Homo sapiens: one gene and its partner. The protein of the gene in region 1 interacts with the protein of each later gene in a pairwise test. Each region holds a gene or a part of one and is shown in the gene's direction. Other genes may lie near its edges. The genes, in order: ZSCAN21 and GRAP2.

The links.
Region 2: the proteins of ZSCAN21 (region 1) and GRAP2 interact in binary tests that used the Homo sapiens proteins (3 or more experiments, as listed by UniProt).

Annotation. Positions count from the first base shown.
Region 1 is NC_000007.14:100,056,562-100,068,387, forward strand, and holds the end of ZSCAN21 (zinc finger and SCAN domain-containing protein 21), read left to right. Parts: intron 1-349; 5' UTR 350-445; coding exon 446-844; intron 845-1,136; coding exon 1,137-1,329; intron 1,330-7,226; coding exon 7,227-8,056; coding exon of another isoform or gene 8,057-8,090; 3' UTR 8,091-8,226; coding exon of another isoform or gene 8,227-8,351; 3' UTR 8,352-8,479; downstream 8,480-11,826. UniProt on the Homo sapiens protein: Strong transcriptional activator. Plays an important role in spermatogenesis; essential for the progression of meiotic prophase I in spermatocytes.
Region 2 is NC_000022.11:39,957,562-39,970,620, forward strand, and holds part of GRAP2 (GRB2-related adapter protein 2), read left to right. Parts: intron 1-2,493; coding exon 2,494-2,613; intron 2,614-2,835; exon of another isoform or gene 2,836-3,358; intron 3,359-6,358; exon of another isoform or gene 6,359-6,813; coding exon of another isoform or gene 6,814-7,008; exon of another isoform or gene 7,009-7,344; intron 7,345-8,428; coding exon 8,429-8,597; intron 8,598-10,480; coding exon 10,481-10,711; intron 10,712-11,849; coding exon 11,850-11,972; intron 11,973-13,059. Other genes in the region: TMA7B (translation machinery-associated protein 7B), read left to right, coding at 6,814-7,008. UniProt on the Homo sapiens protein: Interacts with SLP-76 to regulate NF-AT activation. Binds to tyrosine-phosphorylated shc.

The DNA of each region.
Region 1 (11,826 bases):
TCAAGCAATTCTCCTGCCTCAGCCTCCCAGGTAGCTGGGATTACAGGCATCCATCACCACGCCTGGCTAATTTTGTATTTTTAGTAGAGACAGGGTTTCACCATGTTGGCCAGGCTGGTCTCAAACTCCTGACCTCATGTGATCCACCCGTCTCAGCCTCCCAAAGTGCTGGAATTATAGGCATGAGCCACTGTACCCAGCTCATTCCAGAAAGATTTTGAGCAGTTGTTTTTGTATGGTAGTTTTATGGTGGACATAATTTCCACAATTTCTTGTGTTAAAGGTATGGCTGTAAAGACCCAAAAACACTTTTCAGTTTGATTATTTTTTGGTAACTATATTTTCTTAGGTTTAACTTGTGGCCCTAAAGAACTGGAAACCCAAAGGAACGAATATTCCTGCCCCACAGAGTCCCATCTTTGGTGAGGCTGTTTCTGGAGTTTACATGATGACCAAGGTACTAGGCATGGCCCCAGTTCTGGGCCCTAGGCCTCCACAGGAGCAGGTGGGGCCTCTGATGGTAAAAGTCGAGGAGAAAGAAGAGAAAGGCAAGTACCTTCCTAGCCTGGAGATGTTCCGCCAGCGCTTCAGGCAGTTTGGGTACCATGATACCCCTGGACCCCGAGAGGCCCTGAGCCAACTCCGGGTGCTCTGCTGTGAGTGGCTGAGGCCCGAGATCCACACCAAGGAGCAGATCCTGGAGCTACTGGTGCTGGAGCAGTTCCTGACCATCCTGCCCCAGGAGCTCCAGGCCTGGGTGCAGGAGCATTGCCCGGAGAGCGCTGAAGAGGCTGTCACTCTCCTCGAAGATCTGGAGCGGGAACTGGATGAGCCAGGACACCAGGTAGGCAGGAGAGACCTTTGTTATTCTAGGAGATTGGGAGCGTAACATTCTAGGCAGGAACAAGGGTTTGTCCATACATTAAGATTTGCTGAATGGAAATTTCTGCTGAATTAGACCTTGTTTCCTCCTATTTTTCTCTATCATCCTAAACTAACTTTTAGCCTTGGGAATGGAATGGGATGGGTGTTTTCCTTTTCTCTTTCCTAGAGGTTCTATGTAGCTCTACTGGGATTTTCATTCTTGGTCTTAAAGTGAGCCATGCACAAACCTAGCCATTCCTGATTGTCTCTAGGTCTCAACTCCTCCAAACGAACAGAAACCGGTGTGGGAGAAGATATCCTCCTCAGGAACTGCAAAGGAATCCCCGAGCAGCATGCAGCCACAGCCCTTGGAGACCAGTCACAAATACGAGTCTTGGGGGCCCCTGTACATCCAAGAGTCTGGTGAGGAGCAGGAGTTCGCTCAAGATCCAAGAAAGGTCCGAGGTGAGGACCACCCATTAGACTCCTATTCAGTGCCCCAGGCCCCTGTGGTTGGAGAAGCAGAATAATTAGTAATTCTTGGTTGTGAGGTGATTTCATAGATTGACTTGATTAGTTGGGCTGACTGGGTGGAAATAGTCCCCTTTCCTCCCCCAAGTAAGGCTGTCTTAACCTGGGCCCTAGCATGGGAATGGATCACTCTTAAAGGATCAGTTTCTCTTTGAAGTCTGAGTATTACAAATAATTTTTTTTAAAGGGTCAATTGAAATGAGTTTAAAAAAGAAACTGTTAACAGAGGTGTAGAGACTTCAAATGAACCAATAAGGAATAGTGTTGCACCAGACAACAGTGAAAAGCTGTTACTCCCTGTGAGCCTAAAGGGACAGAGGGGGACCCTCTTACCAGAATCAGGTAAGAGCTATAGTCATGGAGGAGGGGGTCACTTGATAGAAGTTGTGGCTGTAGGCCCTGCTGTGGGATGAGGAGAAAACGGAATAAATACCCCAACTGCACCCTCCTCCTGCCCTTAAATCTCCTGCTTTTGTTCCCCAATGACAAACTCAGTTGGCAGCCAGAGGGCAGGAAAGACAAGACAGTGCAGCCCTTAGGGTCAGCTTCCTGGGGCACAGGGCGGGTCAGAGAATGGATCTGAGAAGGGCAAATGGGAAATAATTGGCAACCTCCTTTCTGAAGCTATGGAAAGAGGTGGGGCATTTTTCACAAGTCAAAGCTGTATTAGGTGACTACTCCTGAGCTCAAATCTCCATATATTATGGTTTATAGAATAATCTCAGGCCATAAATGGTCATCCCCTGTGGGGGTGTTTTTGTGTGTTTTTCTGAGACAGGGATTCCATCCGTCATCCAGGCTGGAGGGCAGTGGCGTGATCATAGCTCACTGCAGCCTCAATCTCTGGGGCTCAAATGATCCTCCCACCTCAGCCTCCCAAGTAGCTGGGACCACCATGTCTGGCTAACTTTATTTTTTTGTACAGACAGGGTCTCACTATGTTGCCCAAGCTGGCCCTATGTTATTTTGTTATTTTATGGGTTCTACTCTTAAGTACCTTCATTTACCAGAAGGATTAGAACTAAATCTTTGAAACAGAGTTAATGTTTAATTATATGTTTGCAAAAATATGGCATATTATTCCAAATCCTAATAGTTTCAAACCAGGACTTTGCTTACGTGTTGGTGGTGTAGACCACTATTTATGTGTGTGGTGTGATTTCATGACAAGAGTCCATGGCCCTCAGAAATCTCCCTCCATGCTTGCTGTGTCTGAAACGTGAAACTCCATCATGGAAACAGAGTTTCGAGCCGGTTAAAAATCACATTTTCTAGGAAAAGTAAAAAATTAAACTGTTAGCTAAATTCTTCATGGTTTATGGTGAACACAGTAGACCTCTCCAGGCAATTGGGGTTTCCCCAGAGTTGCCACAGTAATTAGAGATAAAAATAGCCGGAGACCTATCTGGTCAGTTTTATTTTCCATATCTCTTGGTGTAGCCCCTTGGCAGTATTACACAAAGAGGAGGGTGGAGTGGAAGGATTATCAGAGCCAGGAACAGGCTTGGGTTTTAGTACCCAGATGGGACAGAAGACAAAGCTGCTGGGCCCTCCTAAGGAAAGGGAAGTTGGCTGTGAAAGCTTTGCATAAAGTCTTTTTTTTTTTTTTTTTTTTGAGACGGAGTCTCCCTCTGTTGCTAGGCTGGAGTGCATTTATGCAATCTCGGCTCAGTGCAACCTCTGCCTCCCAGGTTCAAGAGATTCTCCTGCCTCAGCCTCCCGAGTAGCTGGAACTACAGGTGCACACCACCACGCCCAGCTCTTTTTAAAAAAACAGAGTTTCGGTCTTGTTGCCCAGGCTGGAGTGCAGTGGCGCTATATCGGCTCACCGCAACCTCCGCATTCCAGTTTCAAGTGATTCTCCTGCCTCAGCCTCCCGAGTAGCTGGGATTATAGGCTTCTGCTACCATGCTCGGCTAATTTTTGTATTTTTGGTAGAGACAGGGTTTCACCATGTTGGCCAGACTGGTCTCGAACTCCTGACCTCATGATCCGCCCTCCTCGGCCTCCCAAAGTGCTGGGATTACAGGCGTGAGCCACCACGCCCAGCCAAGAAACTGTTAATAAAAACACAAACAGGCACCTTTGACAGAAACAAAATAGAATTTCTAAAAGTGAAAACTGTAGTCATTGAAATGAAGAATGCAATGGCTGTTTTAAATAATGAAGGACATGATTAGCAAACAGAGGTAGATGGAAGGAAGTCATCTGAAATGCTACTTAGAAAGATCAAGGTGGCAGGCATTGGACATCAGTGTGGGATCAGATGAGAAGGTCCAGTGTATGTTTAATAGCTGTTCCAGAGGAGGCGGAAAGAGTTGGAGAGGGCAGACATGATGGCTCACACCGGTCATCCCAGCACTTTGGGAGGCCGAGGAGGGCGGATCATGAGGTCAGGAGATGGAGACCATCCTGGTCAACATGGTGAAACCCCATCTCTACTAAAAATACAAAAATTAGTTGGGCGTGGTGGCATGCACCTGTAGTCCCAGCTACTCAGGAGGCTGAGGCAGGAGAATCGCTTGAAGCCAGGAGGCGGAGATTGCAGTGAGCCAAGATCGCGCCATTGCACTCCAGCCTGGCAACAGAGTGAGATTCCATCTCAAAAAATAAAAAAAAAACCAGACTGGCTGGGCATGGTGGCTCACGCCTGTAATCCCAACACTTCGGGAGGCTGAGGCAGGCGGATCACCTGAGGTCAGGAGTTTGAGACCAGCCTGGCCAACATAGTGAAACTCCATCTCAACCGGGCATGGTGGCACGTGTTGTCCCTGGGACCTGTAGTCCCAGCTACTCGGGAGGCTGAGGCAGGGGAATCGCTTGAACTTGGGAGGCAGAGGTTGCAGTAAGTCAAGATCGCGCCACTGCACTCCAGCCTGGCGCAACAGAGTAGGACTCCGTCAAAAAAAAAAAAAAAAAAAACATTTCTACTAAAAATACAAAAATTAGTCGAGTGTATTGGTACACGCCTGTAGTCCCAGCTCCCAGCTACTTGGGAGGCTGAGGCAGGAGAATCACCTGAACCCAGGAGGTGGAGGTTGTGGTGCAGCAGTGACCTGAGATTGCACCACTGCACTCCAGCCTGGGCGACAGAGTGAGACCGGGTCTCAAAAGTAACCAAGACATAAAAGACGGATTACCCCCCTCAAAGGAATGCTGATTAGACTGATGACAAACTACCCAACAGTAACAGTGCAGCCTGGAAGACAATGAAATAAATAGTCCTGGTAAATTCTTTTTCAATTTTTGCCTCATTCAGCTATTTTTTAAAATGTTAACTTTTGGCTGGGCATGGTGGCTCACACCTGTAATCCCAGCACTTTGGGAGGCCAAGGCAGGTGGATCATTTGAGGCCAGGAGTTTGAGGCTAGCCTGAGCAACATGGTAAAACCCCATTTGTACAAAAAATACGAAAATTAGCCAGGTGTGGTGGCTAGTGCCTGGGGTCCCAGCTATTCGGGAGGCTGAGGCAGGAGGATCATTTGAGCCTGGGAGGTGGAGGTTGCAGTGAGCTAAGATTATGCCACTGTACTCCCACCTGGGCAACAGAGCCAGACTCTATCTCAAAACAAAACAAAGTTTATGAGGTTACTTCTGTCCCACACATGTAGTCCATGGCTGTCCAGTGACTCGAAGAGAAGTCTGTGTGTAGGCAAGCGATTGCTAATTATGGAGAGTGTGAAGGACTTCAGCTGCTGAAGCTCTGACCCCCAGCAGATGGTGAGGAGAGGGTGAGCCTGGAAGCAGCTGATAGTCACTGTCAGCAAAGGAAGGAGATAGACAGCTGGGCAGAGAGAGAGAAGCTGTCAGGGCGGTTCCTAGGGAAGGGGAAACGGGTGAAGAAGGTAGCTTGCTGACAGGCTTCTGTACCCTCAGAGGACTAACAGTTCTCCAAGGGGTCCCATTTTTCAGAGCGAATTTCTCTTACTCCCCTTTTCCCTGATGTGGATGGCCAGGTGGACTTTGAAGAGGTGTGACTGCCTGGTGAGGCGTTCTAAAAAGATAAACTGGTTCCATCTGATTTTAATAGTGAGCGTCACTTTATAACTGAATTACAAGATGTAGCCAGTGTAAGTAAATGATGAGCGTGAAGCCCTCTTGGAGATCACGTGCTTTCATTCTGATTGATACGGATCTGGGGCGGGAATGATTGTAAATGGTCAGAATGCCCTCTGATTGCTTTTATGTTCAACTGCTGTGGGAACATGGGTTTTTGTGAGTTTGCCACTCAGCCTCATCCTTAATTGTCCTTGTCATTTTCCTTAACCCTGGCCCTGCAGCAGTCATTCTCCCTTGTTTTTAATCTGCGTGAGGCTCAACTGTTCTTTTTTTTTTTTTTTTTTTTTTTAAAGGGCCGGGTGTGGTGGTTCATGCCTGTAATCCCAGCACTTCGGGAGGCTGAGGCGGGCAGATCACCTGAGGTCAGGAGTTCTAGACCAGCCTATGGTCTAGAACATGGAGAAACCCTGTCTCTACTAAAAATACAAAATAAGCCGGGCATGGTGGCACATGCCTGTAATCTCAGCTACTCGGGAGGCTGAGGCAGGAGAATCGCTTGAACCTGGGAGGCAGAGGTTGCGGTGAGCTGAGATTGAACCATTGCACTCCAGCCTGGACAACAGGAGCAAAACTCCATCTCAAAAAAAAAAAAAACATCTGGGCACGGTGGCTCACGCCTGTAATCCCAGCACGTGGATCACCTGATGTCAGGAGTTTGAGACCAGCCTAGCCAACATGGTGAAACCCCATCTCTATTAAAAATACAAAAATTAGCTGGGCGTGGTGCCAGGTGCTTCTAGTCCCAGCTCTTCGGGAGGCTGAGTCAGGAGAATCACTTGAACCCAGGAGCGGAGACTGCGGTGAGCCAAGATGATACCACTGCACTCCAGCCTGGGCAACAGAATGAGACTCCGTCTCAAAATAAATAAATAAAATAAATATTTTTTTAAAGATAGGGTCTCACTCTGTTGCCCAGGCCAGCACAATCATGGCTCACTGCAGTCTTGACCCATTGCAGCCTTGACCTTCCAGGCTTAAGTGATCCTCTTATTCAGTCTCCCAAGTAGCTGGGACCACAGGGGCACACCATGCCCACCTAATTTTTTTATTTTAACTTTTTGTAGAAATGGGGTCTCCCTATGTTGCCCAAGCTGGTCTTGAACTCCCAGACTCAAGCCATCCTCCCGCCTCAGCTCCCAAAGTGCTGGGATTACAGGCGTGAGCCGCTGTGCCCGGCTACCACTCTCATATGCTGCATTTTGCCTTCTGTATGTGAAGCTGTTTTTCTGGCAGAAAAAGCCACGTTCTCTTCACATCTTAATAGCTTCGGGTGGGGAATTGTGTGAAAGTGTGGTATGGAGGCCAGGCCTGGTGGCTCATGCCTATAATCCCAGCACTCTGGGAGGCTGAGGCAGGCGGATCACCTGAGGTCAGGAGATCAAGACCATCCTGGCCAGCATGTTGAAACCCCATCTCTACTAAAAAAAAATACAAAAAATAGCTGGGTGTGGTGGCACGTGCCTGTAATTCCAGCTACTCTGGAGGCTGAGGCAGGAGAATCGCTTGAATCAGGGAGTTGGAGGTTGCAGTGAGCTGAGGTCACCTGCATTCCAGCCTGCTGACAGCGAGACTCCATCTCAAAAAAAAAAAGAAGTGCAGTATTGTAAACTAGATTGGATGCTGATTTACTTGTATCTATGCGCTATCATGAGCTCTGTTTAGTCACCCTTCAGAAACCATCAGTCTCACCTGATGGTTCTATCTCTCTGGTAACAGTTTCTTCCTCAGAACAAGAAACAACTGAAGTATCCTTAATCTGCTTATTGTTTCAGATTGCAGATTGAGTACCCAGCACGAGGAATCAGCAGATGAGCAGAAAGGTTCTGAAGCAGAGGGGCTCAAAGGGGATATAATTTCTGTGATTATCGCCAATAAACCTGAGGCCAGCTTAGAGAGGCAGTGCGTAAACCTTGAAAATGAAAAAGGAACAAAACCCCCTCTTCAAGAGGCAGGCTCCAAGAAAGGTAGAGAATCAGTTCCTACTAAACCTACCCCAGGAGAGAGACGTTATATATGTGCTGAATGTGGCAAAGCCTTTAGTAATAGCTCAAATCTCACCAAACACAGGAGAACACACACTGGGGAGAAACCTTACGTGTGCACCAAGTGTGGGAAAGCTTTCAGCCACAGCTCAAACCTCACCCTCCACTACAGAACACACTTGGTGGACCGGCCCTATGACTGTAAGTGTGGAAAAGCTTTTGGGCAGAGCTCAGACCTTCTTAAACATCAGAGAATGCACACAGAAGAGGCGCCATATCAGTGCAAAGATTGTGGCAAGGCTTTCAGCGGGAAAGGCAGCCTCATTCGTCACTATCGGATCCACACTGGGGAGAAGCCTTATCAGTGTAACGAATGTGGGAAGAGCTTCAGTCAGCATGCGGGCCTCAGCTCCCACCAGAGACTCCACACCGGAGAGAAGCCATATAAGTGTAAGGAGTGTGGGAAAGCCTTCAACCACAGCTCCAACTTCAATAAACACCACAGAATCCACACCGGGGAAAAGCCCTACTGGTGTCATCACTGTGGAAAGACCTTCTGTAGCAAGTCCAATCTTTCCAAACATCAGCGAGTCCACACTGGAGAGGGAGAAGCACCGTAACTTTCAAGCGCTCCTGTTGTTGTCGTTGTTTTAAACTTTAGAATCTGAAAACCAGAAAGAAGTCTTGTCATTGCAGCAGCATCGATTCCGGTGATAGAGTTTGTATCACTCAACATCAGGGGATGCCTGAGGAGTGCGAGCTCCACAGCAACATGGCAGGCAGGAGGTCCTCAGAAGGTGTCAGGAGGTTCCACACTCGCCAGTTCACTGGAGCAGAGTCCCTTCGCCACACTTAGGGTCCCAGTAAGCCATGCCAGCATTACCTTTTGCGTAGTTAAACAGACGTGTATCCAGTCTAGTTAAGGAAGAAACATTAAGATTGTTTAATTTTTAACATATATTCAAGAATTTTAATTTGTAAAGAATTGAGCCACATTGAACACAATTGAATGAGATTCAGAATAAACTTATAACATCTTGTAATGCCTCAGGACTATTATTATAACAAATGATGTGTTGGTTATTGAATACTTACAGATGGAGAAAACTATTCCTACTGGTTTAGCTTTTAGAAAATTTGGATTTGGGGGTCAGGCACGGTGGCTTACGCCTGTAATCCCAGCACCTTGGAAGCCTGAGGCGGTCGATCACCTCAGGTCAGGAGTTCGAGACCAGTCTGGCCAAAATGGCGAAACACTGTCTCTACTAAAGATACAATTAGCTGAGCATAGTGGCGGGTGCCTGTAGTCCAAGCCACTCGGGAGGCTGAGGTGGGAGAATCGCTTGAACCCGGGAGGCAGAGGTTGCAGTGAGCCAACATTGCGCCACTGCACTCCAGCCTGGGTGACAGAACGAGACTCTGTCTCAAAAAAAAAAAAAATAAAGCGAATGCTTTCACTAGATAATAACTGCATACCAAGAGCCAGGGGCCATGTTGAACTGTGCCGGCACAGCTGTTGTGGATGAGTTTGTGGCAAACAACCATTATCAGCCACAACTCGTCGGTTTTTTACAGAAGCCATACAGAAAGAGTGTCTTTTGCGTCTTTGAGGGCAGCAATAATCACTTCAGTTCCATTCAGGGTGTGGTATTGTTTCTTGCCACTTTGATTGGCTGGGGAAGGGCAGGGTGTGCAGGAGTTTCCACTTGACCCTTCTGCCTATGACCTAAGCTACAGGTTAAGTAAACAATGTGCTGGGCATCTGTCCCCCTGCTAAACATATCCCAATTATCTTCTCAGGGACATGGCCATAGGGTGAGTCTGTTCCCACTGGGCCCACTGAGATGGATTTGGGCCAGGACTCCATTTATCAGCTGACCTGTGTCTGGAGGGCAATGGTAAGTTTTAGATCCGTGTCATACTAGATCCTGTATCAAAAAGCCTCAAAAGGCCTGGGCATTCTGTTTTCTTAGTACGTTACTCTAGTGAACAGCCACAGGTCCTTTGGGGAAATATTTATTGCATAATACTCGTGGTACAGTTGGAAGGTCTTCAAAGAAACCCAGACTCCCCTTAACTTGATGGATTCCAGATCTCAGAACTGGCTCAGATCTGGAAAGCAGCAGCAGGATTGCAATTTCCCATTGTAACAGCCGGTATCAGCCTTCTCATCAACTCTTGGGATTTTTTGTTTATACAAATCAAAGCCTTATCCTGTTGGCTGAAAGTTTTTGTTAAGAACACCAAGGGTTATTAGTCAATGCCACAGTTCTCTGTGGGTCAAGACACCCTAGTGGGCTGTGCACAGTGGCTCATGCCTATAATCCCAGCACTTTGGGAGGCTGATGCAGAAGGATCGTTTGAGCCCAGGAGTTCGAGACCAGCCTGGGCAACATAGTGAGATCCCATCTCTCTTGTTTTTTAAATTCATATTTAATTTAAACAAAAATAAGGCCGAGCGTGGTGGCTCACGCCTCTAATCCCAGCACTTGGGAGGCCGAGGTGGGCGGATCACGAGGTCAGGAGATTGAGACCATCCTGGCTAACAAGGTGAAACCCCATCTTTACTAAAAATACAAAAAAAAAAAAATTAGCTGGGCGTGGTGGCGGGCACCTGTAGTCCCAGCTACTCCGGAGGCTGAGGCAGGAGAATGGCATGAACCTGGGAGGTGGAGGTTGCAGTGAGCCGAGATCACGCCACTGCACTCCAGCCTGGGCAACACAGTGAGACTCCATCTCAAACAATAAATAAATAGGCCGGGTGTGGTGGCTCACGCCTGTAATCCCAACACTTTGGGAGGTTGAGGCAGGTGGATCACCTGAAATCAGGAGTTTGAGACCAGCCTGGCCAACATGGTGAGACCCTGTCTCTACTAAAAATGCAAAAATTAGCCAGGTGTGGTGGCGTGCGCCTGTAGTCCCAGCTACTCAGGAGGCTAAGGCAGGAGAATTGCTTCAACCTAGGAGGCAGAGGTTGCAGTGAGCCGAGATTATGCCATTGCACTCTAGCCTGGGTGACAGAGTGTCAAGATTCCATCTCAAAAAAAAATCACCCTAGTTGCCACTCTGGCCTGGTTGCCCATCATGGTAATTGTGTCCACTTTGCCTGTGATAGCTCAGTGCTGCCGCCTGGCCTCTGTTGACCAGTCATCCCATTAATAACAGGGAACTCTGTTCTGTGGCAGAATCTCCTACTATTAACCCTGCTGAGGCAGCTGTCACTGAACAATCCCGGTGCTCCCCTCACTTCATCCTTTATTGTCTGAGTGAACGGGAAGCTATTTGGGCCTTCCGAGATAACATAGGTGTTTGGTTCTCAGATCTCGTGTAAGAAATTCATTTTAACACACGCTGAGTCTGCTGACACCCTTTCTCTGCTCATCATTTTAGCAGCTCTACCTCATTTACTGTAGGCCATCATTCCTCGCCAAGTATTGGATTTTTTTCTTTTCAGAGAGACAGGGGTCTCATTATATTGCCTAGGCTAGTTTCCAACTCCTGGGCTCAAGCAGTCCTCCCATCTCAGCTTCCTGAGTAGCTGGGACTACAGATGTGTGCCACCACGCCCAGCTAATTTTTATTTTTGTAGAGACTGGGTCTCACTATGTTGCCCAGGCTGGGCTTGAACTCCTGAGTTCAAGCGATTCTCCTGCCTTACCCTCCCAGAGTGCTGAGATTACAGGCGTGAGCCACTGCACCCAGCTGATTAATACATGAAAACCACTCGGAAAAGAGCCAGGCAACGCTGACACAGAGTATATGCCATGTATCAGCTACTGCTACCATCACTTGCAAATCCCATCTCCTCTACAATCTCAACTCTGAAAACAGTATCATTCCACTCCATCTTTACTGAACCTGCCCAGGCTTGATGCTGGTTAGATGGAGGAGGATGAGGAGTATAATCAAAGAAAACTTACAAAATTTTGATCCTGACAGGTTTACAGAAATTTTAAGAGGGGGCAATAAATGGGAAAGTGGGATCTGGTTTGAAACATACTATGAAACTGTAGAAAGTCCAGGTGTAACTGCTCTGCAGTCCACTGGAGACCCACGACTGAGGCTTGGGAGAGCCATCAGGACATGGGCAGGTTTTTTTCTTCTTCTTCGAGACAGTCTCGCTCTGTCACCCAGGCTGGAGTGCAGCAGCATTATCTCAGCTCACTGCAACCTCTGCCTCCTGGGTTCAAGTGATTCTCCTGCCTCAGCCTCCCGAGTAGCTGGGATTACAGGCATGTGCCACCAAGCCTAATTTTTCTATTTTTAGTAGAGACAGAGTTTTACCGTGTTGGCCAGGCTAGTCTCAAACTCTCACCTCGTGATCCGCCCGCCTTGGCCTCCCAAAGTGCTGGGATTACAGCCATGAGAACACAGATTTAAAATTTATTTG
Region 2 (13,059 bases), on another chromosome or scaffold:
TGCTGGATCATTCCTGTCAGCAAACACACACGCTGCAATTTCTCCCAACTTACCAAAACACAAACAAACAAAACCAAACCCAGAGGCCAGGTGGGTTTTGTTGTGGCTGATGCCTGTAATCCCAGTCCTTTGAGAGGCTGAGGGAGGAGGATCACTTGTGGCTAGGAGTTTGAGACCAGCCTGGGCAACATAGCGAGCCCCATCTCTACAAAAAATTTTTAAAAATTAGCTGGTCGTGGTGGCATGCGCCTATAGTCCCAGCTGCTTGGGAGGCTGAGGCAGGAGGATCGCTTGAGCCTGGGAGTTCAAGGCTGTGGTGGACCATGATTATATCACTGCACTCCAGCCTGGGCAGCAGAGAGAGACTCTGTTTCAAAGAAAAAAAAAATTTAAATAAATAAATAAATCAAGAAAATTCTTAATCCCAAATCCCCTTCCACTTGCCACTCCATCTCTTCAAAAGGAGTGTGTGCATTTGCTACTTCCAACTCCTCATCTCCCGACCCTTCCCACCAGGCTCCCCATGGGCTGTAGCTCCCAGGGGTCATCTCAGCATGACCTGCCCTGGGGATCCCCCCTCCCACTGGAACACCTCTTTCATTTTGGCTCCAGGACGTCCTTCCTCCGGTTGTCCTCCCACTGCCCTGGCTTCTCCTCCTCAGTCTCTTGTGTTGGTTCCTCCCACTCCCCAGTCCCCTATAGGTTTAGAATGTCTCCTTTTCAGTGAGGTCTTTCTCATCACCATACCTTACATTAATCTCCCACCCACAGCGCCCCATCTCTCCTCTCAGTTTTCATGTTCTCCACAGCACTTACCATCATCTGGCACGCTTCAGATCTTAATTATTTTGTTCTTTTGTGTGTGTCCCCCTCGACTAGAATGTAAGCTCCCTGAGGGCAGGGGTGTGTGTCTGTTCTGCCCACTACTGTGTCCCCAGTGCCCAGGAGGGGCCCAGCACAGTACTAGATGTTCAGTAAAGCTGTTGAATGAATGAATGAATGAATGAACGAACGAATATGTATTATTGAAACCATGACCACTCATGTCTAATATGCAATGTGTGGTGATTTTTACAAATCTTTAAAGAAGCCCCCTATCAGATTGCAGTCAGAGGACAAATGTGTATTTCCTAAATCCCCTTCACTTCTGAAATGTTTCCTTTGCGATATGGCTGCTGTGGTGCATACTCCATTCCTCTTCCCATCCCCATTACATTTCCCACACGTGGCAGTGGTGTGTGTGGTGGCCTCTTGTTTAGCCCTGTAGAATTGTGTGGCAAATACTCAGGCAGAATCTCCAGGCCACCAGAAACTGCTGCTTTCAGCCCTCTCAGAGCACAGCCAAACTTCCCCCTCAGTCCCAGTGGGGGACTCAGTCTCCAGTAAGTACATCCTTCCTGCTACCTATGTCTCAGTTTCCCAAATTCTAGAAAGCACAGAGAATTGCTCACAAAGGAATCCAAAGCCAAGGCCTGACGGGCTTTTATCTTAAAGGAACATGCGTATGAGCCTTCTGGTGACAGCAATTAGAGCAGCCACCTTGAAGCAATGTGACACAGTCCCACCTTTGGCCGCTGAGTGATTGCAGACACTCATTTTGCTTGTCTGTGGTGGAGAGAGGTCTCTGGCCTCCTGCTTTGAGGCTGCAGCCACAGCTTGCCTGGCCCTGTGTAAGTGTTTGACCTATTTCATACATGCCACGCTGTATGCAGCTGTACCTCCAGGGGCTGCCACCCTGACCATTCTGCTAAAAGAGTAATTTCTCCTGTTTCTTCTTTTCCACAGTAAAGATTATTTCCCAGCCTGGATTTTTGGGGCAGGCCCAGGATCTGGTTGTATAGACGCCGCTCTCTGGCGGCTGCCAGCCTCGCTGATTTCCAAGCATGTACACTGGACTCCCTAGGAACACTGCAGCCTCTGCTAGGCACACTGAGCAAAGCCCCCTTGTGCTCCATGCCAGCCTAGGTAACGTGACGCCCTGGGCTGTAACTTTCCTTTAATACCCAGGGAGGAACCTCTAGGCCACTGAGACCTCAGGGCAGGCATGAGCACCCCAGGCCCTGCTCAGCCGGCTGCACCTGGTTGGCTCCAGTGCCTGAAGCCTTCCCTTCCCTCCCCAGTGCATCCTCTGTCCTCGCAGCTCTGGTCTATCTCTTCCGCAGCTGCCGGCAGGCGGCTGCTTCCTGCAGTGAGTCACTCCCACACTGCCCCATTTTGGTGCAGCGACACATTTCCATGATTCGTTTCCCAGGCTGGAGAGAGACTTCTCCTGGAGAGAAGGAACAAAGAGGGTGAATCAAGGGGAATGCTCCCTCGCCTTTCCTGAAAGCTGCCTGGAGCACTGGTTTGATTTCAAACAGCACCTGGTCTCTCTCTGCTCCCTACTGTACAGAGTCCCCAGCCTCTTTCCCTCTGGGTCACCTCTTCTCCACGTCTCCCTCTTGTCACTCCTGTGTCTCATCCTGATCCTTTTGTTTGATCTCGCCCCCACAGATGGTTTCACGAAGGCCTCTCTCGACACCAGGCAGAGAACTTACTCATGGGCAAGGAGGTTGGCTTCTTCATCATCCGGGCCAGCCAGAGCTCCCCAGGGGACTTCTCCATCTCTGTCAGGTACTGACCATTCCTGACACTGCCTTGGCCCTTCTCGGCCTGTTAACCTCACAGAATGCTGAAGCCATGAAGGGACCTCTGGAATATGACCCAATGGTCAGAAGCATGGTGGCCTAGGGGCCAAGCATGGCAGCAGCTTCACAACCTGCTGCTCCCAGTGCCTTCCCAAAACATGCACACACCACTCTTTAGAACACTGGTGTGTGTTTGAAATTATTTCTACGCCCATCTGCCTCCCCTTCTAGCCCAGGTGCTTCTGGAAGGGCAGGATTTTCCTCTACTTCATCTTTATGCCTTTAACAGTGTCTTGCATAAAAGAGAGACACTCAGTGAGTATTTGTGGAAGGAAGGAGGGATAGGAGGAGGAGAACTCCCACTTGTCCAGATCCATCTGGGGGTTTAAATCTTAACCTTTTCTTTTATGATTGATGCATATCTGAAGAAGAGTCAGAGAAAAATAGAAATCTCAAGTCACTGCTGTAGGATATACAGGGGCGGAAAAGTTGTGGCACCTTTCTTTGCCCATCAGAGGAGTCACAGCTGACACTCCTACAAGACAGGTTAACAAGAGGAGAGTGGACACATTTATTTAATCAAAGACTTGTGTGACACAGAAGCCTTCAGAAATGAAGACCCAAGACCCAGGGAAAGCCGTCTATTTTTATGCTTAGGTTTGTCAAAGGACAGACAGCCCTGTAGAAATGGGATTGGACAAAGGGGGTTTGATCTAAGGTAACAGACTGAGGTAGGAAACTGAACAAGGCCTGTCCCAAGTCTTCTTTTTTTTTTTTTTTTTTGGAGACAGCTGTTGCCCAGGCTGGAGTGCAGTGACGCAATCATTGCTCACCACAGCCTCTGTGTCCCAGGCTCAAGCCATCTTCCCACCTCAGCCTCTCAAGTAGCTGGGGATACAGGTGCACACCACCACACCTGGCTAATATTTTTTTAACTTATTTCTTTGTAGAGACTAGGTCTTACTGTGTTGCCTGGGCTGATCTCAAACTCCTGGCCTCGAGTAATCCTCCTGCCTTGGCCTCCCCCATAGTGACCCTTCTAGTCTCTCTGACCCACTGTGGGGAAGAGGAATTCTAATTTCTATGACTCACTCAGGGGGAGAAAGAGGAGCGGGAGACAGGAGGGCAGGAGAAGGCCAAAGGAAGACTTTGCTTCCAAGGCTGCTTCTGAAACCTTCCCATCTCCTTTGGTTCGAAGCACTCAGCATGCCAAGGGGTGTCGTTTTCTGAGCCCCAACAAATACATGTATAGTTGTAGGCAGCTGAACAAAAAGAAAGGCTACTTCAACACAGTACAGTACAGCAAGACCGAAAACCACAGAACAGAGGGCCAGGAGTGGGGGAGGACTGTAACAGCGAAATCTCACTAAGGTGCAGCAACCCATAGGAAGTGACTCAGTCCACGCGTAGACATTACACAGCCCCAAACTCAGAAGCCCAGTTCGGAACACACTGTGTGTGGTCAGCATGTTGAGGATCGCAAGTCACGTATCAGACTTCACCACATGTGAAACTGCAAGAATATAATGCTGTTAGCAGATCAGGAGAAGTACAGCAAAACCTTACTGTCAAGTTATTGGCAGGAAATACCGATCTGGTTTATTCAATATATTTTGAAAGGCATAAAGCTTTGTTTTAAGGACAGAAATCCAATCTCAAGTAATAAACTGTGGCCACTTTGCTGTTTAGAAAGAATGGATATTTGAAAGGATAGGTAGGAAGGACTTAAAAATAACAGGTCAACAATTTGTATGCATACATACCTTTAAAGTGGTCTCTTTAGCATTGCCCTTGCAATCTTGCTTAAACTCTTTTCTTCAGTAAAAACTTTATTTTCATAGCTTGGAGAATGGTTAACTTTAGTTCAGGCCAATATTGATGTATCACAAATTCTAATCTTGTTAGGTCTTAATTAATGAAATTTCGCTCCATTAACATATATTACAAGTCAGGGTCGGGCGCCGTGGCTCATGCCTCTAATCCCAGCACTTTGGGAGGCTGAGTTGGGAGGAATGCTTTAAGCCAAGGAGTTGGAGACCAGCCGGGGCAACTAGTGAGACCTCATCTCTACTAAAAATAAAAAATTAACCCAGTGCAGTGGCGCATGCCTGTGGTCCCAACTACTTGGGAGGCTGAAGTTAAAGGATTGTTGGAGCTGGGCGGTTGAGGTTGCAGTGAGCCAAGATCGATCGCACCACTGCACTCTAGCCTGGGTGACAGAGCAAGACCCTGTCTCAAGAGAAAAAAATTATTTACATATATTATATACATATATTATTAGAAAAAACAATTATACATATATTTAACATGCGTGTATATATATTACAAGTCAAATCTATTTCTTAAGCCTCCCCTCTTTACCCCATCATAAACTTGACCAAGTAATTTGTTAGACTGAGGGGTATCTCTTGGGCCTTTGGTTTGCATGAAGATGACTCTGGCTTTTTCAGCTAGAAACTATGGTTTTTGTGGTTTCGTTGGTTTTTTGAGACAGACTCTCGCTCTGTCGCCCAGGCTGGAGTGCAGTGGCGCAATCTCGGCTCCCTGCAACCTCCGCCTCCCAGGTTCAAAGCAATTCTCGTGCCTTGGCCTCCTGAGTAGCTGGGACCATGGGTTCGCACCACCACGCCTGGCTAATTTGTGTGTGTGTGGTTTTTTTCAGTAGAGACGGGGTTTCGTCATGTTGGCCAGGCTGGTCTTGAACTCCTGGCCTCATGTAATCCACCCGCCTCAGCCTCCCAAAGTGCTAGGATTACAGGCGCGACCCACTGTGCCCGGACCCAGAACTATGGTTTATATTTCCTTAATTAAAGTGAGTTCTACAAAACAGTAGGCCTTGACTTCTACCGAAGTCTTCCCCTGATATTCAGGCGATGAAGCTTCTAGTTATGGTGACAATTACCGTAATCCTTATCACGTCTTTGCAGAAATGTAGTATAATATTTTCCAAAGCAAAATCATTATTAATTATTTTTACATCTGTCATGGGCACAGATAATTAAGAGCTAATTGTAGTTCTATCACTCAGCATTTGTTAAGGGCCTGAAACACCAGATTTTGGAGTCCAGCGCCCTGAGTCGCATCCTTTCCTTTGTTCCTCTTCAGGCTTGAGACAATGGTCAGGCCATCCTCTCCTTGTAGACCCAGATAACCAGCTGCAACCCTCACACCCATCCTTACAGCTTATGAGAGTAAAAGGGTCAATGTTTCACACTCTGAGTTCTTTGAGGTGGTGGATGAAAAATTATAATATCACAAGAATATTTTCTCCTCCTCACCTGGATGTGAAGGATAATGACTTTGAGTTGATCCATGTTGTCTTAGAATGAAGAAAGTATCTGTTGGTGGCCAAAACCAAGGGGAAGACCACAAAGTGATTGCAATATGTTGATTACCACCCGAAATCAGTCAAGCAAGAGGCCACTTGTACAACCTGTGGCTTCACCCAGCTATGAGCAAATCCCAGCACATAAGATGAGATTGAGGGTCAGAATTTCCATCTCCTTCTTAACACAGGTCCCTAAATCCATCCCTAAGAAACCTCCATGGTCAGGCGCAGTGGCTCACGCCTGTAATCCCAGCACTTTGGGAGGCTGAGGTGGGCGGATCATGAGGTCAGGAGATCGAGACCATCCTGTCTAACACGATGAAACCCCGTCTCTACTAAAAATACAAAACTTAGCCGGGCGTGGTGGCGGGCGCCTGTAGTCCCAGCTACTTGGGAGGCTGAGGCAGGAGAATGGCATGAACCTGGGAGGTGGTGCTTGCAGTGAGCAGAGATCACGCCACTGCACTCCAGCCTGGGCGACAGAGCGAGACTCTGACTCAAAAAGAAACCTCCACTTACTCTCAGAGGTATCTTTACTCTCCGAGACCCTTTAAAATTCTTGACCTTTCTTTTACATCAGGCAATTGGCATCACTAGTGCCAGTTTATTTTTAGATATAAATGTATGTCTGTTTGAAAAATAAACTTTACATCCAAAAGAGAATGACTTGGCAATGAAGTAAAACTGGATCTAATGGTAAAGGCTCAGCCCACCCTTCCTAGATGGATAAAATCCATTTTCTCTAGCCCTGGTTCGAATGTGTCCCATCACTTGTGAGTCCAGACTGGCAACAAAAGGTGCTGATCTAAAAGAAGTTATCGTCCAGTGGCAGGGTCTGGGGAAGGGGCGGCAGGCGCCATGTCCAGCCACGAAGGTGGCAAGAAGAAGGCACTGAAACAGCCCAAGAAGCAGGCCAAGGAGATGGACGAGGAAGAGAAGGCTTTCAAGCAGAAACAAAAAGAGGAGCAGAAGAAACTCGAGGTGCTAAAAGCGAAGGTCGTGGGGAAGGGGCCTCTGGCCACAGGTGGAATTAAGAAATCTGGCAAAAAATAAGCTGTTCCTTGTGCCTAAGGAGACGGTGACCCTTTATTTCATCCGTATTTAAACCTCTCTATTCCCTCCTATAATATCTTTTGCCACCTATAGTTGGAATTAAGTGTCGTCTTGGAGCTGTTGTACATTTAAGAATAAACTTTTGTAAAAAAAAAAAAAAAAAAATCTTCCAGTGGCTCATCATCTCTTTAGTTGTTTTCACTAAGTCATTCCTACCATAACTGTGAATTTAAAGTAAAACCAGCTCAGAATCTTGCCAGAATCTGCTCTTTGGTCGTTGTTCTACCCTAAACTTTGTATCACCTGAAATTAAACCAACTCATTTGAAAGAAAAAAGAAGTTATCATGTTTAGGTGGCGTGACAGGCCAAGCTCACTAGACTGGAGTCAGAGACTCAGGGTTCTGGCCTCAGCCCTTACTCAGCAGTGACCTTGACCAAGCCCCTGCACCTCTGTGAGCCTCAGTGTCCTCATCTGTAAAATGGAGAAGTAAGGCTAAACAATCTCCAACATCCTTGCCAATTAAAACTCTATCATTTCACAGGGCGCAGTGCCTCACACCTGTAATCCCAGCACTTTGGGAGGCCAAGGCAGGTGGATCACCGGAGGTCTGGACTTCAAGACCAGCCTGACCAACATGGCGAAACCCCGTCTTTACTAAAGACTTGGTGGTGGGTGCCTGTAATCCCAGCTCCTCAGGAGGCTGAGACAGGAGAATCGCTTGAACCTGGGAGGCGGAGGTTGCAGTGAGCAGAGATCACACCACTGCACTCCAGCCTGGGCGACAGAGTGAGACTCCATCTCAAAAAAACAAAACAAACAAACAAACAAAAACTCTGTATTTCATACAAAGCTATTTCACCAAAAGCTGAAAACACTTTGTAACCTTATTTATGCAAAACATAAACCAAGATCAAGAGATCCTTATTACATAGAGAAAAAATGTGACATATTTCTTAGGAAAGAGAGTAGCTTCTTACCTGCCAGTGCTAGCTTATGGGCTTAAAGGAGATGGTTCAAAGAATTTCTGGTAACAGAAAGATAATAGGAGCTTGAAATACCCCTGTTGACATCTTGCGAATAAACATTGTGAAAAGGTCTTTGATCTCTTTGTCGTTAAGTCACTTGGAACATGCTTTTCTTGTAAAAGGTTAGTTCCAGTGTCCAAAACAAATTTTAGCTCATCTGATTACCTTCTGCTGATGTAAATCCCGTCTAGCATAGCCTGTATCCTAAGTGGTCCATCCTACAAAGTTCCTGCCGAAGCCTGACTGGGCTGGCCCACCTGCCCAGTGATGAGTGAGTCATCCATATCTACATCTCCTGCTCAAAGAGAACTCCACCATCCCAGATGTGAGCAGCCTGGAGGTGGTGACATTATCACCGTGTAACATACAATTTTGTTTTGCCTTGATCTCCAGGCATGAGGATGACGTTCAACACTTCAAGGTCATGCGAGACAACAAGGGTAATTACTTTCTGTGGACTGAGAAGTTTCCATCCCTAAATAAGCTGGTAGACTACTACAGGACAAATTCCATCTCCAGACAGAAGCAGATCTTCCTTAGAGACAGAACCCGAGAAGACCAGGTATGCTCCAGATCCAGTCGACCCCAATCTAGAGATTTTAGGCAGCCTGAGTTCTCACATGAACCACCAGGAAAAATGCATAGGATGGGTAGATCCTCTGAGTATACTGAAAGACAGAGCTCAGAGCTCTGAGGTCAGATCTCAACTTAACACTTCCTAGTCGTGTGACTTTGGAAAGTTCTCTGCGCCTCAGTTTCCTCATCCATAAAGTAGGGACAATGGTAATATCTACCTCCCAGAATGGCTGTGAAGGTTGGAGAAGATAATGTATCCCACGCCTCATGTCATTCCTCATCACACTGCGCTCAGCAAGCATCAGCTCTTACCACAGGTGCTGTTTTTTTGTTATTCATAGACATTGCTACACCAAAGTTTTCAACCTAGCTCAAGAGTTGCCCAAGGATGAAGGAGTTGGGGGTGCTACAGACAGGGACATTAGGGAACAGCCTAGAGTTCAGGAGTTAAATCAGCATGTGGAGTTTTATGATGGGATTGGGGGTAGGGAGGACATGGGAGGAGAAAACTGCACTTGGAATTATTGCTGTTGCAACTGTTTGCAATACAGACTATTGCTTTAAAAGGAAATGCGTCAGACAGACCTGGTATGAAATCCTGCTTTAATCGCTTAGCTACCTGTATTACCTAGCCAAGTTAAGAAACCATCTGAGTATCAGTTTTCTCATCTGTAGAATGGAGAGAGCAATAAAACCTCCCTCACTGGGCTGTTGTGAGGATTAAATGACTTAATACAGCTAAGCACTACCAGAGTCTGGTCCATATTAAACACTAAGAACATGTTAACTTGCCTCCCATAAGTAAATTCACACATGCACACACTCACACACACACACACACACCAATTTATGAACTATTTTTCAAAGGAAATAACATGGTTATAAGAGACAGGTATCATAGGAAGAAGCATTCACTAGAATAGCTGAAATCCTAGGGACAGGTTATTTGAAAAGATATTGAGACTGTGAAAGCAATGTGTGCTTTGGGGAAGTCAAGAAAATCCTCCTTTTTCGAGTCCCTAGTTGCTTTTAAGCCTGAGAAGTTACTGCCAAAGGAGAAAAGAAGTTACCACCAAATGCACACAGAAGTTCAGAAAGGAAAACAAAGGCTAGCCAAGACCTTGTGAATCACTCTAACCAGGAAACGGACAGAGGTATTAACTCACTAGGATGGGCATTCAGAGAAGCAATATAAAATTGCATTAAATGGGATTAAATGAGTTGATATTTGTAAAGCGCTTAGAACAGTGCCTGGTATATGCTGCCCTCAGGGTCCTACATAATTGTTTGTTAAATGAAACTAACAATACGGTATTTCTGATTTGTAAGGTTGTTGTAACATTAGGGAAAAAGGCCTTACTTCTTCCCCCACGTCCAGCCCGGCGGCAGGCCTGGTTCCCATGGTGTTGCAAGAATGTTGCTGTTTGGGTCTCTATCACCAGGCTGTAAATGACAGTTCAAAATCATGCAAAGTCAACAGTGGAGCTTATCTGGAGGGTAGATTGTCCAGTGGTGTGGCAACATGTGATAAGAAGGGGTGGCATTGTATCAGTAAAATGGAATATTTCAGCTTGATTACACAGAGAAAAAACGAGCGCCCTGGAAATGGACTAAATGGCTACCAGGCAAAAAGTGTTAGTCTGTGAACCAGAGACCTGCACTCCTAAAACTGGGAGGATCTGAGAATGCAGAGGCCACTTTGGAAAATGTGAAGGTCTAAAGCATCAATTATCTTTTAGCTGCCCCCACCCCACCAGCTATTTCTTGGAGCCAGATGAGCAGGGTCTGGGAACAACTGCCCGAGGGTAGGGTAGGGCCAGACGATCAGAGAGGAGGATGCATCTGCAGCATCTCTGTTCTTTCTCCCAGGGTCACCGGGGCAACAGCCTGGACCGGAGGTCCCAGGGAGGCCCACACCTCAGTGGGGCTGTGGGAGAAGAAATCCGACCTTCGATGAACCGGAAGCTGTCGGATCACCCCCCGACCCTTCCCCTGCAGCAGCACCAGCACCAGCCACAGCCTCCGCAATATGCCCCAGCGCCCCAGCAGCTGCAGCAGCCCCCACAGCAGCGATATCTGCAGCACCACCATTTCCACCAGGTATCTGGAAAGAAGGCAGTGGGCACAGTACGGTGGAAAGGAGAACCTGCCTCCCCTCCAGGCCTGGCCCAGCCTCTTGAGTTCTCAGAGAGTTCATGATGAAGACCCTGGACCCCCCCAAATGGCAGAAATAGGGAAACTGTTCTTGGCAAAGACATCTCTATGAATTAAATGGCTCCCACCTGAACACACACACACACACACACACTGTCTCACACACACACACACACTTAAACTCACACACACACACACTTCCCCTGAGGACCCAGTAAACAATTGCTTCATTTTCCTATCAGCACAATTCCAAATCTATTCATGCCCCTTAGCCCATCTGGCTGTCAGATCCACAAGAGAAAAAGGCTTAATACCCACAACAGAGCCTTGTTTATTACTTATTTATCTCCCTCCACCCTTGTTCCCGATGGGATTTCAGGCGGCTTACTGAGATGGACAATACGGCCAGATAACATCATTCCTGAATTCCTTAGCAGGGCACACAAAGTCCTTTGTGAGCTGCCAGAATCTATTTCCCCAGCCTCGTCCCTGCTGCCTCCCTGCCAACTCCCCGTGCAAACACACATTCCAGCAACCCCCCACGCTGCCTTAGTTACCCGAATGGTCCATTGCGTTTCCTCTCATGCCTTTGTGGCGTTTTATATGCTGATCTCTCTGCCTGATGAGCCCCTCCCTGGGCAGTCCTACCCCTCTAAGCTGGAGTTCAAGCATGACCTCCTCTGTGAAGCCTTCCTTGATTTCCCGGGCAGATACAGACATTTCTTCTCTCTGCTCACTTACCACTTAAATGTGCATGGTTCCCCCTCTAAATGGAAGCTCCATGAAGCCAGAGACCTTCTCTTTCCAGCTATATTTCCCTTGTGTCTGCTACTGGAAACATGGTAGGTGCCTGATAAATATTTCTTGACTGAATAAATAAAACCTGCCTTTGCCTTCTTTGCCTTCAGAATCTAAGGTGCCTTTAGACCTTAGGTCCTCCTCAACGTGGAGGGTTTATTGTCATTATCAGTAAGTATTCCTGGAATATACCGGCTCTGTGGATGGCATCTGAGCAAGGCACTGGGGGAACCGGTGGGAGATGTCCTGGCAGTGGGGTGACCAGTCTTCTGTTGTATGTTTCTAGGAACGCCGAGGAGGCAGCCTTGACATAAATGATGGGCATTGTGGCACCGGCTTGGGCAGTGAAATGAATGCGGCCCTCATGCATCGGAGACACACAGACCCAGTGCAGCTCCAGGCGGCAGGGGTATGGGAACTGTCCTTCTCTGGGATCCCTGGGGAAAGGCCTTGGGACAGAGGTCAATGGAGGAGATGAGGCAGGAGAGACTCAAACCACACAGATCTGGCTGGGCACGGTGGCTCACACCTGTAATCCCAACACTTTGGGAGGCCAAGGCAGGTGGATCACCTGAGGTCAGGAGTTCGAGACCAGCCTGGCCAACATGGTGAAACCTCACGTCTACTAAAAATACAAAAATTAGCCAGGCATGGTGGCAGATGCCAGTAATCCCAGCTACTTGGGAGGCTGAGGCAGGAGAATTGCTTGAACCCAGGAGGCAGAGGTTGCAGTGAGCCGAGATTGCGCCATTTTACTCCATCCTGGGCAACAAGAGCGAAACTCCGTCTCAAAAAACAAAACAAAACAAAACAAAAATGCACACACAGATCAACGAGAGGTGATGGAATGTTTGGGGAGGCCTGGGGCTGAGCCAGCACCGTCCAGTCTGTTGATCTCAGTCTGGTGCCAGGCCTTCCCTGTTCTCATAGTTCTCAGTTCTAGTTCTTTATCATCTTTATCATAGTCCTTTACCATTGCCTTTATCATTGCATCTTTTTTTTGTTTTTTGAGACAGGGTCTCACTCTGTCTCCCAGGCTCAAGTGCAGTGGCACAATCATGGCTCACTGCAGATTCAAACTCCTAGGCTCAAGCGATCCTCCTGCCTCTGCTTCCCAAGTAGCTAGGTATATTATTTGTAGCGATAAGCTCTTGCTATATTGCCCAGGCTGGTCTGGAACTCCTGGGCTCAAGCAATCCTCCTACCTCAGCCTCCCACAGTGCTGGGATTACAGGCATGAGCCACCGTGCCTGGCCTGTGATCCATCTTGACTTGTGACTTGATTGCCCTAACACCAAGGGCTGTTGTTTGGGGCATGTTGCCCTTCTGTTTGTCACTCAAGATAAAAATACCACCTATTGATGTGGAGAGAGTGGTTCTCAGGGAGTCTATTGGGGCTTTGGACAATAACATCTGTTGGTAAAAGTCCTGGGTCTCCAGAGTGACGCTGGTGCGTTCTGGGAACTTCTTGCTCAGGCCTGTGCATAGGTATCTGA